3 separate regions of the Homo sapiens genome follow, and regions 2 and 3 are each linked to region 1. The links come from fine-mapping of genetic effects on gene expression. A gene starts in region 1. Each other region holds a variant in brackets. All regions are shown on one strand. Distances are from middle to middle. Region 1 holds the start of IL36B (interleukin 36 beta). Region 2 has its middle 18 kb from the start of IL36A. Region 3 overlaps IL36B (interleukin 36 beta).

Region 1 (4,241 bases):
GGAGCCCCCACACAATGTCCCCACTGGGGCATTGTCTAGTGGAACTGTGAGAAGAGGGCCACTGTCCTCCAGATCCCAGAATGGTAGATCCACCAACAGCTTATGCTGTGTGCCTGGAAAAGCCACAGACAGTGTCAGCCCATGAAAGCAGCCAGGAGGAGGGTTGTACCCTGCAAAGTCACAGGAGTGGAGCTTCCAAAGACTATGGGAACCCACCTCTTGCATAAGCATGACCTGGATGTGAGACAGAGACTCAAAGGAGGTAATTTTGAAGCGTTAAGATTTGACTGCCCCGCTGGATTTTGAACTTGCATGGGGCCTGTAGCCCCTTTGTTTTGGCCAATTTCTCCCATTTGGAATAGCTGTACTTACCAAATGCCTGTACTCCTATTGTATTTAGGAAGTAACTAACTTGCTTTTGATTTTACAGCTCATAGGCAGAAGAGACTTGCCTTGTCTCAGATGAGACTTTGGACTGTGGAATTTTGAGTTAATGCTGAAATGCGTTAAGACCCTGGGGGACTGTTGGGAAGGCATGATTGGTTTTGAAATGTGAGGACATGTGATTTGCGAGGAGCCAGGGGTGGAATGATATAGTTTGGCTGTGTCCCCACCCAAAGCTCATCTTGAGTTGTTGCTCCCATAATTCCCATATGTCATGGAAGGGACCCAGTGGGAGGTAACTGAATCATCAGGGCAGGTCTTTCCTGTGCTATTCTCATTCTAGTGAATAAGTCTCATGAGACCTGATGGTTTTATAAAGGGGCATTCCCCTACACAAGCTCTCTTCCCTCCTGCCATGTAAGATGTGACTTTGCTCTTCCTTCATCTTCCATCATGATTGTGATGCCACCTCAGCCATGTGGAACTGTGAGTCAATTCAATCTCTTTCCTTTACAAATTACTCAGTCTCAGGTATGTCTTTATTAGCAGTGTGAGAACAGACTGATACAGAGAGGAAGTTTAACTGCCCTTCTCTTGAGTATGGACTGGACTTAGTGACTTTTTTCTAATGAGTATGTTACATGGTGAACATGGCAGCATGTCACTTCTGAGACCAGGTCATAAAAGGCATTGCAGTTTCCTCCTTGCTCTTAGAACACTCACCTGGATGAAGCCAGCTGCCATCTAATAAGGATATTCAAGCACCCCTATATAGAAGCCCACATGGTGAGAAACTGTGGTTTCCTGCCAATGGTCTGAGTGAGCAATCTTACAAACAGATCCTTCAGTCCCAGTCAAGCCTTCAGATGACTGAAACCTTGGCTGACATCTTTCCTACAACCTAATCAGACACCCTGAGCCGAACCCTCCAGCCAAGCCAGTTTTCTTATTCCCGACTCTGTCTTTGTTAAATAATTTTTTTGTTTGTTTTAGGTCGCTAGGTTTGCTGTTACACAGCAATTAGTAACTAATACAGTTTGACATCACTATTGGGAAGTTTCTACTCCTGTTGTTTTTTCATTTTCCACTGTCTTCGGTGGGTATGCTCTCTTCTCAGCAAACATCTCAGTTCTTCATGGGCTTTATATGCCCTGGAAAGTGTCACAGCCTGCAGAGAAGCAATGTTCCCTGTGGTGACTTATCCTCACCTTTGTGAGAATGGCAATAACCCTGGAGGTAGATGTGGCCTCTGCTCTTGCTGTAGAGATGACTTAGGGCAGGTGTATTCACCTATATGAGAATGTAAGCAGAGTTTATTATGGTAAGATAGTAAATTCCTGTTAGGGAGATAAATTTAGTAATAATTAAAGTAACTGATATTCACTTGGTGCCCACTATGTCCCTAGAATTCTATAGCACTTCCCACAATGTGTTCCATGAGACTCCAATAGAGAGATAATGAGCAGCAAGTATTCCCGGCGGCTTAGGGTGGTGTGAAATCACGCTGAGAATCCTGCTTCTCCTCAGGTCCTGGTAGTTTCAGGGCCCCTCCCTAGGCCTTACTTAAAAGGCTGAGGCATCCTTGGAAGAGCAGGCAGACTCCACGGATCCCACCAGGAGAAAGGAGCATTCTGAGGTATGCTCTAGGGCACTGGTGGGACTGGAGCTCTCTCCTCATTTCAGACCCAGAATCTCCTGCTCTGTGGAAGCTGTTCTCATGCTGGGGGACTCAGTGTGGCTGCTTGACTGGATGAGACAGAGGATGTGAAGAGCCAGGTTGGCATCTAGCACAAACCCACAGACACGGGTTCCTCCCCACTCTGTCTTTCTCACCTCTCCTTCACTTTTCCTAGGTATGTAAAGAAGACATTAAGAACACGGCAAAGGCCAAATTTACATTGACTTAAATCTAAGACTGGTTCATGACCAAAAATGCATGTAGCTAGCATGGCTTTCCCAACGCAGAGAGAAAAAGGCATGGACTCAGCTCCAACAGACTGGCGTAATGAGTGCAGAATATGCTGTGAGGTTTTAAATTTGCTGACAAGAAAGGTTAACGTTTGTTACACATTCACTCTGTCAGGTACAGTGATAAAAGCAATATAGCTATTATGTTGCCTCATTCCCACATCAGTCCTCTAAGGTAAGTGCTATGCTTATTCCCATTTAACTGATAAGACAAAACGAAAATTAGAGAGGCTAAGTCACCTAAGGTCACAAAACTAGTAAGAGATGGACCTGGTATTGGTACTCTTGCAGCTTGACTTCATACTAATTCACACCCATTCCCCAATATGAAAAATAAGCTGTGTAATGCTTATAAATTCACACATTTGGAATAGAAGGCAGAGCTCGAGGCTGGGGGAATGAAGGAGTCTGCACAAAGGACCAACAGGCTTTCTAAGAAGATAATAGAAACCAGCCAGGTGCAGTGGCTCGCACCTGTAATCCCAGTACCTTGGGAGGTAGAGGCGGGCAGAACACTTGAGGCCAGGAGTTCAAGACCAGCCTGGCAAACATGAAGAAACCCCGTCTCTACTAAAAATACAAAAACTAGTTGGGCATAGTGGTGCACACCTGTAATCCCAGCTACTTGGGAGGCTGAGGCACGAGAATCACTTGAATCCCAGGAGGTGAAAGTTGCAGTGACCTGAGATCATGTCACTGCACTTCATCCTGGGCAACAGAGCAAGACTCTGTCTCAAAAAAAAAAAAAAGGAGAGAGGGAGAGAAGATAATAGAAACCAACAGAGTTGGTGCAGAGACAAAGGAGTGCCCCATAGCAGAGTGTGGCACACTTTGGGTTGGACGGAATTTATCACTCCCTGGAGTGACTTTTGGTAGCTGAGGACATCCGTGAAAGTCCTTCCTGGAGTAGGAGTGATGGTGTGCATGCACAGACACAGCCTCCAGGGAGCCGTGAGCAGAAGGGGACCTCCAGCTGCATCCAGGACTCCCTCTCCAACCCAGCCACATCAGAGGGGAAGGGTACCACTTGGCTCATAGCGCTTTCGAGAAACCCTGGATGCCAGTGAAGTCATGGGGAGGCTGTGGGCCAGGATCCACAGGGCTGCAGCTGGGTGCTGAGCCAGAGGCCAGTGGCTTTGTTGCCTGCCCTCAGCCCCGTGGCACCCTCTGCCTGGGAGGCTGGGGAAGGGCCAGGTGCACAGGCCGGGATCTGAGAGAGCGCGTGGGCAGTCCACAGGGCAGGTGAGGCTCTGAGAGAGAGTGTGGGCAGTCCACAGGGCAGGTGAGGCTCCGGTGTGTGTCACACCCACAGTTTCTGCTGACTGAGTCCCATGAACAGGGCCAGAGCCACCGGCAACTTCTGTACCCCAGATCCACATTCAGGCGCTTTCCTCGTCTGTGCCTCAGAGGCTTCCAGAGCCTGCGGACTCGCCTCCGCCGGACTGTGTAGTTTGACCATTGCTCTCCAGCAGGAAACTGGAAATAAACCCAGGGCTAGGCACTGGCTGAGCTCCATTCTCCCCGGTCCTGCGCTGGCCCCTCCGGCGGGGCCTGCCGCTCTCAGTGTGCCGGGCCAGGATCTACCGGCAGGGGGCGCTCTCCACCAGGCTAGGTCGGGAGGCCACGATGAGAGGCACGGCCTCCGATTCAAGGATCGGGAGGCCACGCTGAGAGGCACGGCCTCCGATTCAAGGATCAGGAGGCCAGGCTGAGAGGCACGGCCTCCGATTCAAGGATCGGGAGGCCACGCTGAGAGGCACGGCCTCCAATTCAAGCTCTCTTCCTCTTTTTCTGTCTCTTTCCACAAGGATCTGCAGCCCTCACCCGAGTAGCGAGCATCTAAAGCAGGACTAGACGAGGCAAGGGAGCTGCACCAGGGCTACCCCTGA
Region 2 (4,241 bases), 29 kb after region 1:
ATTTATTTTCTTAGGCTTTGTGCTATAGCTTCTTCTCCTTGTCTTGGCCCATTTGCTCTCTTCTCGTCAACCAAATTCTAGGTACATAGAGGCAGAAATTTGTCTCTTTCATTTATGCACTCCCTTTAGATACCAAATCTTCCCTCCCTCTTAGCAGTTTCTCAGAATGCACTGTTGAAGCAAATTAATTTTCATTTCATGTATTAGCATCTTCCCATTAATACCAAAGTGTGTCAGGGAGAATCTTGCATTATATCAGGGCAGTCCTCAACTTCAAGAAGGGTCCAAGGAACTGGAAAGCTTCTCACAGAATATGGAGAGGAAAAACATAGAAAGGCTGCTCAGAAATTTCCCTGTCTCAATTCTTCCTCCTCTTCCCCTTATGCCAATATGGCTCCAGGGGAATGTGATGATACAAGGGCATCCACTCGGGAGGAGATGGCTGCAGAAATGAAACATAACCAAGGGTATCCCCAGGAGCTTTTAGCCAGTATCCTCTGCCTCCCTCTTGGAGGGCTCGGTGCACAGTCTGAGGGTTTGCATTTTGTCCAAGCCTTTCCCCACATGTATTTATGCATATGCACAACAGCATAGGGGCACAAGAGAAGGAGCCCAGGGAAATTCACCATTGCAAATATTTTCTCTGACAAGGTCATGACTAAGCACAAATGGCCTCAAGGATGGCCATGAGAGACTTGCAACAATGTACTTGGATACGTAGTACATAGGTTTTCTGAGAAGGGCTGCAAAGAATGTGAGTTCTGTAAATAGCTAAATGTGCAGAAAGAATCTATAGGAAGATGGTGATGAAAAATGCAATGTAATCCTGGACAGTGCTTATAAATATCAGCTTCCCAGCTATTCCAAGGGCACTGAACATGAGCAAGAGATAGACAGCCAGCCCATCTTACATCACACCACCTGTGCCCTCTGCCAGAGGAGTGAGGACATTGTGATGGTGAAGGAGGAAGAAGAGGAGGAGAAACCACAGAAAGACTCAAGAGGTGTCCTCAAATATTTTATTTGCTCTCCTGGATCGAGAGCTGTGATGTTCTTTGCTTAAATCTAAGAACCACAGGAGAAGGCACGGGATGACAGATTTCTGTTCAATCAGTATCAGAAGGCACTTCCCAAACAATGTGGGTTTCCTAAGCCTTGCAAGGAGGTAGGCTAATTCCTTGTCTATCTGTAGTATGGAAAAAATAAGGCCAACATAAACACACACACACGAAATAGAATATCGATAAATGGAGAAAGAGCACAGTGTTATTCCCCCTGTTCCAGTCTCTGAAGCACTAGTTCCTATGACCTTTTTTTTCCAGCCTATGAGATACTCTAATATTCACGGAGGTGTTGATGCTTTTGTTGCTTTCTTAAGCAAGAGTCACGGTCCTCAGGCCCAGGACTATTGAATGGTGGGTTTTTCACAGGGTGGTAGAGAGGGAGTTTACCCGTGTGACACTCAAAGATAGTTTGTCCCCTGAATCTCTTCTATTCAGAAACCTAAATGAATGCACGTCCATTTCAGAGATCCCTACATGCTTCCACCCATCTTTCTCTTCAATTTCCATCAGCATGCATATCTGCCCTGTCCTTCCCTCCACTTCAGTTTCCTTTATTCTTCAGAAGAGAAAATGTAAAAAGCTCTATAAGCTTGCAACTGAGAATCTTTGTCTCTCACTTAGGTCAATAAGTTTATTTTAACGTTGTTGATGATCTAATGTGAATTAGGGGCAAGAAAACAACACGGGTTATCAACAAGAAAGGAGGGGAGATAAATATGCAGTTAAAGAACTGATCAGTTAACTACCTTACTAGTTTGAGTCACTTACAAGTAGAA[C/G]ATTTCTGATTATAAAAAGAATACTTCAAAGTCAACTCTAGGCCGTATGGTTGGGAAGTAACACCAGAAATAAGTGAATAAACTACATGGAAACCCATAATGTCATTCCCTTAATGGTTGTCTCCTTAACTAAGGATGCAATTAAAAATGAGACAGAGACTAGCAAAGACTGTGCAGCTGACAGAGTGCCACCTCCCAATATCTAATAGCAACCATCAAAAGATCAAAAACCATACACTGATGTTCTCTATTGCTCGTACAGTTTAGCAGGTTAAATTTTGCAGATTACAGCTCTAGTTCACTAAAATCAGTTTTATCTATGCCTATAATAGCAGTGTGGCCATAATAAAAGCCACATCTAACTGACCAAGGCCAAAGCCACTAGCAATGTCTTCTCCAAACTCACCATGTAGTTTGAACCCCAAACAACAAAGCTTGTTTTTATCTCAAAGGAAGTGTCAGGATCAATAATCTGAATTATTCAACAAATATGTTTTGAGCACCTATGCTGTTCTAAGTGCTGGGGACATAGTAGTAAACAAAAAGGGGAAAATATGGCCATCCTTATGGAACTGACATTAAATGTTGAAGGTTGGTAGGTAACAGTCCCTCCTTCCAATCGCCATCCACGTTCAAACATTTAGAAACTATGTTGATGCCAAAATCAAAATCATAGCAGTGCCTTTATTATTGTTACAGCTGGATTAGGGAAGTGAGGGGTGCCTCTTAGTCTTCTGGGGCCTCAATCTAGACTTTTGGGGCAAAAACCATGCCCACCAACTCTAATTTCATTTTCTCCAGTCACTGTAATAATCCATCACTCTTCAGCAGAATCAAGTGAGTAAGGCTGAGAGGAAGGCAAACTCCAATCTCCTCCAGGAGCCTCCGTGTAGAATCTGCCCTTTTAGCCCCTATTCAATTGGTGGTTTAGCAAATGTCCACATCTTGCTAAGCCTAGGAGATACTTCTCCTTTCCTGCAGGTAGAAAGAAGTGGAAGAGTTCCTTTCAACATCACCATCTCAGGAAGAAGGACAAAGATTTCTCATCCATGCGGACCAACATAGGAATGCCAGGAAGGATGTAGAAATAAGGGGAGGAAGATTCCCATCTCTACAATCTTTGAGTGGGTTTGCTATCAATGAAATGCTACAAATGGAATAAGTTGCAGAAATTTTTCTCTTTTCTTGGGTTCTGGAGAGTTTGTAAAACAAGGACACTATGTATTTTTAAAGAGTTGGTAAATCTTACCTGTAAAGCTAGAGAAGGTCGGAGTCTTTTTAGGAGTAGATTTGGACTACATAACCTGTAAATGTGTTTTGTCCAGTCCTTAGAGTGTTTTTTAAAAAATTGTAAAGTCAAGGTTTTCATGAAAAATGGGAAGATCAGACAACATTGCTCCTGAATTCCCACAGAGCAGCAAGCTACTAGAGCTCAATCTGTTATTTCTTTTCCTGATGTACAGGGGTTAAGTCCTATGGAAGAAACAGCAGAATTATTCAAAATTATTTACATAATGTGCAATTATTCACTAGAGCATGAGGAGTGAAACGCTCTGTTTAGTATGTATAACTTAAAAGGAACACATACAATTAAAAGTAATTGAAAGACATTTCTTCTTAAAAATTCTATAATCTTACACTGGTAAAATAAACTAGTTTTTCCCATGTAATCAAGTCTATATGATATTATTTTTATAGTATATTATTTTTCTTCATCCATTTGCCTTTAACTCCCATGTGGGCTGCTCTTTATCTACCATAGGCAGAACCATATATTTCCATTCCTATGTAATAGGATCCCAGTGAGTCTTTTTCTCCCAAAAGATGCAGCAACAAAAAGTTAGGGATTATAGCCATGGAAAAGACAGTCAGTTGTTTCTTACAATGGAATAGTAATAGTCTAGGCCTCCTACTGTAGGCACCGAGTAGCCACCCTGGGTATCCACTCTTTCATCCACTGATTTGCTCAGAACAACACCTAGCTATTGTATCAGAAAATTTTCAAGCATACAGAACATAACGGGGACCACAGCATTTGAGAAACACAGCCTCTGCTAAAGCTACTTTCTTCACATGCTGTTTACACTTTTCACTTTTAAAAACGTTAATTTTTCAGTTATTAATACATCGACACATTCATCTTGAAATAAAGTTAAAATATACCAGATAAATCCAAATTCTTTCCCCCCAGATCCTAGTTCCTCTTTCTCCACCCCAATGGTAACCACTGTTATGAATTGGTGTCACTCTGGCTATTTCTTATGCATTTACGTACTCATAGGCTCTATTGGAAGCATACAATGTTGTCTTATGTGTACCCCTGTGCATCTGTATGTATGTGTCCATGTGAGTGCATGTTTCTCTAACTGGAATAATAAAATACATATTTTTCTCCAACTCA
Region 3 (4,241 bases), 21 kb after region 1:
AAAACTCCCTGCAGGCGAAGATAAGCTTGCAGGGCAAGAAAATCAGCAGAATCCAGTACATCCAGAGCAGGGAAGTCAGATGGGCAGGGATAGAAGGCAGCAGAAAGATAAAGAGGACCCAGATCATGTGGGCTTGGTGAGGGCTTTGGTTATTTGGGGCATAAAGCAAAGCTATTAGAGGGTTCTGTGCAAGAGAGTCATACGACTTTATTTACATCTTTGATTCTGGTCACTGCTAGGTGGACATCTGACTCTAGGGAGGTAAGAACAGAAGCAAGGAGACTATTGCAATGCTCCAGAAGATAGAGTCAATGGTGGATTTCCAAGAGCAGAACCACAAAGAGTGATTGGGAGTAGGACTGACCAATAATATTCGGTTTCAAGAGTAATGATTTTCTTTCATAGCCAACATTGAAGCCGCGTCTGACTCCTAATTCAGAGTTAGAAAGCCACAAGACCTCCAAGTTCTCTCCTCTCCTCTCCTGGACACATTATAGATTTTTCAGTATCCTCAACTGAATGCAAGACTGTGTTCCGGCTAGTGCAGTATGCAGGAGACTATGACCCAGGGGAGGCATGTCACATAATCATTAAGAATAGAGAGACTTGGCTTCTAACTTGGCTAGATTTCTTAGTAGCTGTATGACTTTGGGTACATTCTGTCATCCCTCAGAGCCGCTGTTTTCTTACATGAGAAATAAAATTAATGGCCCCTAAAGAGTTGTGTGTGGGACGGGTGCAGTGGCTCACGCCTGTAATCCTAGTACTTTGGGAGGCCGAGGCGGGTGGACTGCCTGAGCTCAGGAGTTTGAGACCAGCCTGGGCAACACAGTGAAACCCCTTCTCTACTGAAATATAAAATACAAAAAACTAGCCCAGTGTGGCAGTGGGTGCCTGTAGTTCCAGCTACTCGGGAGGCTGAGGCAGGAGAATCACTTGAACCTGAGAGGCGGAAGTTTCCATGAGCCGAGATCGTGCCACTGCACTCCAGCTTGGCGACAGAGCGAGAGCGAGACTCCATCTCCAAAAAAAAAGTAAATGTAGCGTGAAGATTAAAAGGTTACTCAGGTAAAGCTCTTACAACTTTAGCAGAAACAGAATAAGCTCTCAATATTTGTACCATATAAATGTGACATGGTGGGTGTGTAAAACTCCTGCAAGGAGTACTGTGATTGGCCTAACATCAGATGCAAACACAGCAATGGCTTCATGCAGTTTAGTGGGTCAAGAGAGCCACACCTCTGCCTCCAAGGGAGACACACCTCTGCCTCCAAGGAAGACCAGTAAAGGCACTCTCCTCAACTCAGCATCTGGCCTAATCCGCATTTCCTCATTGCTGTTTTCTGATGTTGCCTCTGCTCTTGTTAATCAGGAAGCACAGACCAGTCATGCTTGTGTTGCTCCACTGTCAGTCCTCCAGAGCCTCAAGAGATCTTTGGGCCATATCAGCTTTCTTTCCAAAATGAACACACCCAGGGGCAGGAAAGAATGCTCTTTCCTTGGTCATTAAGGGGCCTGGGAGTCCTGGACCAGCTTTTCATGCAGCTAGACCACTTACATGCAACTAGAGCCTTGACTTTGAAACGAGGGACAAAAGCATCTCTTGCTAAAGGTAACTTCTGCTGCTTAGAACCCAGGTATGGGGAACTTCTTTCATGTCTCTGTGTTTAGCCTCGAAGTGCCTCTGGGAGTCTTGTCAAAGGTACAGAGTACTGAAGGATCCAGGGCTGCTTACAAGGGTGCAGGTTGGTGATCTGCTTATCCACTGTGTAGGGACAACTATTGAATCACACATCAAGGATCCTGAGAGAAGGAGGGTTGTGAACAACTGGTTCTCATTGTGGAGTGTCTGTGATATTCTTGGGGACTGTTCTGGTGCCCTAACTAGAAAACCAGAGGCAGATGATCCCTAATAGTCAAAGCACCTTGTGGGGCCCTCAGTGGCCATGTGCATGATCCTTACAGATGTCTCTTTGGATGAGGAATGGAAGAAGATGGGCTCAGTGAGGCAGGTTAGCTACAAATTACTTAGGAGTGTTCAGCTTCAAGTCAGGAAAAGTGGTGATTAACCTGCTGTGTGGAGGGCTAAAATGGAGATACACACACACACACACACACACACACACACACACACAGACACACACACGCACTCTGTCTCTCCCTCCTTCCTCTCAACCCAGAGACTCAGAGTACTAGAAGGTGCCCGTGGTGATGTGTTGGAACCTCCTAACAATCCCAGATGTGATTAATGGAAAGCATACCAAGACCATCACAGCCTAGAGAAGCAGGACTGTGCCAGCCACAGCAGAGATGGGAGCTTCCTTTTAGGGTTTTCTGGCCTTGAAATGTCCTGTACCCATCCTTATTCTCAAATATGCATCTAGGAGAGGCTCTCAGGGCAGCTCTCTCTAAAGAATTTTTACAGTAAAATTTTAGGGGGAGAGGAGAAAAAAGCATAACATGTTTCTTCTCTCCTTCTCTCACATGGCCAACTGTTAACAGCCTCCTCACCACCATCTGATCTATCTTGTTCTCTTCACAAAAGGCTCTGAAGACATCATGAACCCACAACGTAAGTGGTGAATTGCAAATCAGCTTGGAAATATCTCCATCTGACCTCATCAAAGACAATAGGATGGAAGGACCCCTATCATTTGCTAAGCTATAAATGTATTT[G/T]CTCTTGCTAAAACACTCAGTTCCTAAAACGGCCTTTGAAAATCTCGGGGCACCTAGCTCTTTTATTATTATCTGTATTTAGAATTGCTTGTTTATTTTGATGAGAGGATTTTAAAAAACAACATATGGATAACTAATTTAAATATTATGGGGTTTTTTTTACCACCTAGACATTTTATCATTCGGAAAAAGACAAGTCACTAATAGCCCTAGAAAAAGGTGAATCTTGGGACTGTGACTGCACGTAGATCCTTTCAAATGCTTTGATTCACAAACTAGTCCCTGCCCTATTTCCCCTCCATTTATCGTTATAGCCACTACTTCTCAGAGCAATGAGACTCTCTCCAGAAACTCAAAAGCCATTAATACCAGGATGCAACTGGAGTCCTGAAGTTGATAACCTCACGTGTATTTTGTGCATTTTTGTCATCTGGCAGGGGAGGCAGCACCCAAATCCTATGCTATTCGTGATTCTCGACAGATGGTGTGGGTCCTGAGTGGAAATTCTTTAATAGCAGCTCCTCTTAGCCGCAGCATTAAGCCTGGTGAGTGACAATCAAACCCACTGTTGCTTCTTGAGGTGATGCCATCTTCACCAGGAATGAGGCTGAGCTTGCATAAGCCTGGCCCTGGACCTCACCCACTTCTAGGCACCAGCCCAACAGCCACAGGAAGGTCAAGTGAGAAAGGACACTATGATTCCCTTCCACAAAGGAAATCCCATATCTAGAAATGAGGGTGTGAAGGGTTGACAGCTCCTCTTACCAAAAGAAAATATCTTCAGATTAGAAGGGCTTATCCATTCAAACAACAGCTAACCTTCTCCTTGGAGTTTCTCTCCTTCAGGTTCCAACCATTGCTACCTGTGTCCTCAGATTCAAACTCCGTCATCTTTCCACCACCAAACCTACACAGCTTTCTAAGTTGGCATCCTCTTTTCTAATAATGGGGAAATATTCCTTTCTCCCATCAAAAGTCAGTCCATCTCAGCTTCTTTCCCTGTATCCAGAACTTCAATGTTTAATTCCTCGCTTCCCTGCAAATTCCACCTTTGTTTACTGGACCCTTTCTATCATTGTCAGACATGCTGCAACCTTCTCTTGATTCCCACATTTTCCTCCTACTAACACATTTTCTTGTGCCAATCATAGCAAAACTTCACGAGAGCTGGCTGCATAATTTGCAGTCTAACATCTGGATTACTCTTCCTACTCCCCCCCAACCTTCTATTTCACCCATGACCTTCAAATACTCAAACCCAAAGGACACTTCTTGGTCCCCATGCTATTTGGCCCTTAGCTCACTAGTGTAATGGACCATTTCCTTCTTGAATACTCTACATCTTCTCCCTTTTTTTTTTTTAAACGGAGTCTCACTCTGTCACCCAGGCTGGAGTGCAATGGCACGATCTCAGCTCTCTGTAACCTCCACCTCCCAGGTTTCAAGCAATTCTCCTGCCTCAGACTCCTGAGTAGCTGGGATTACAGGTGCCCACCACTGTGCCTAGCTAATTTTTGTATTTTTAATAGAGATGGGGTTTCACCACATTGGTCAGGCTGGTCTCG

The links. PIP is the estimated chance that this variant, and not a neighbour inherited with it, causes the effect. A credible set is the group of variants that fine-mapping cannot tell apart.
Region 2: its variant is the best candidate, but not a certain one, in a credible set for the expression of IL36B in unexposed skin (GTEx, PIP 0.54).
Region 3: its variant is the best candidate, but not a certain one, in a credible set for the expression of IL36B in sun-exposed skin (GTEx, PIP 0.70).

What each region holds. Positions count from the first base shown.
Region 1 is chr2:113,050,813-113,055,053 of GRCh38, reverse strand. It overlaps IL36B (interleukin 36 beta), which reads left to right and starts at 2,187. Exons shown (of 5, transcript NM_173178.3): 1 at 2,187-2,237.
Region 2 is chr2:113,021,358-113,025,598 of GRCh38, reverse strand. It overlaps a transcript of IL36B not described here. Among named protein-coding and RNA genes, the nearest start is that of IL36A, 18 kb to the right of the region's middle. The variant C/G (reference allele first, on the strand shown) is at 1,841.
Region 3 is chr2:113,030,028-113,034,268 of GRCh38, reverse strand. It overlaps IL36B (interleukin 36 beta), which reads left to right. Exons shown (of 5, transcript NM_173178.3): 2 at 2,503-2,572; 3 at 3,114-3,221. The coding sequence starts at 2,560. Among named protein-coding and RNA genes, the nearest start is that of IL36B, 21 kb to the left of the region's middle. RefSeq lists a silencer at 1-177. The variant G/T (reference allele first, on the strand shown) is at 2,677.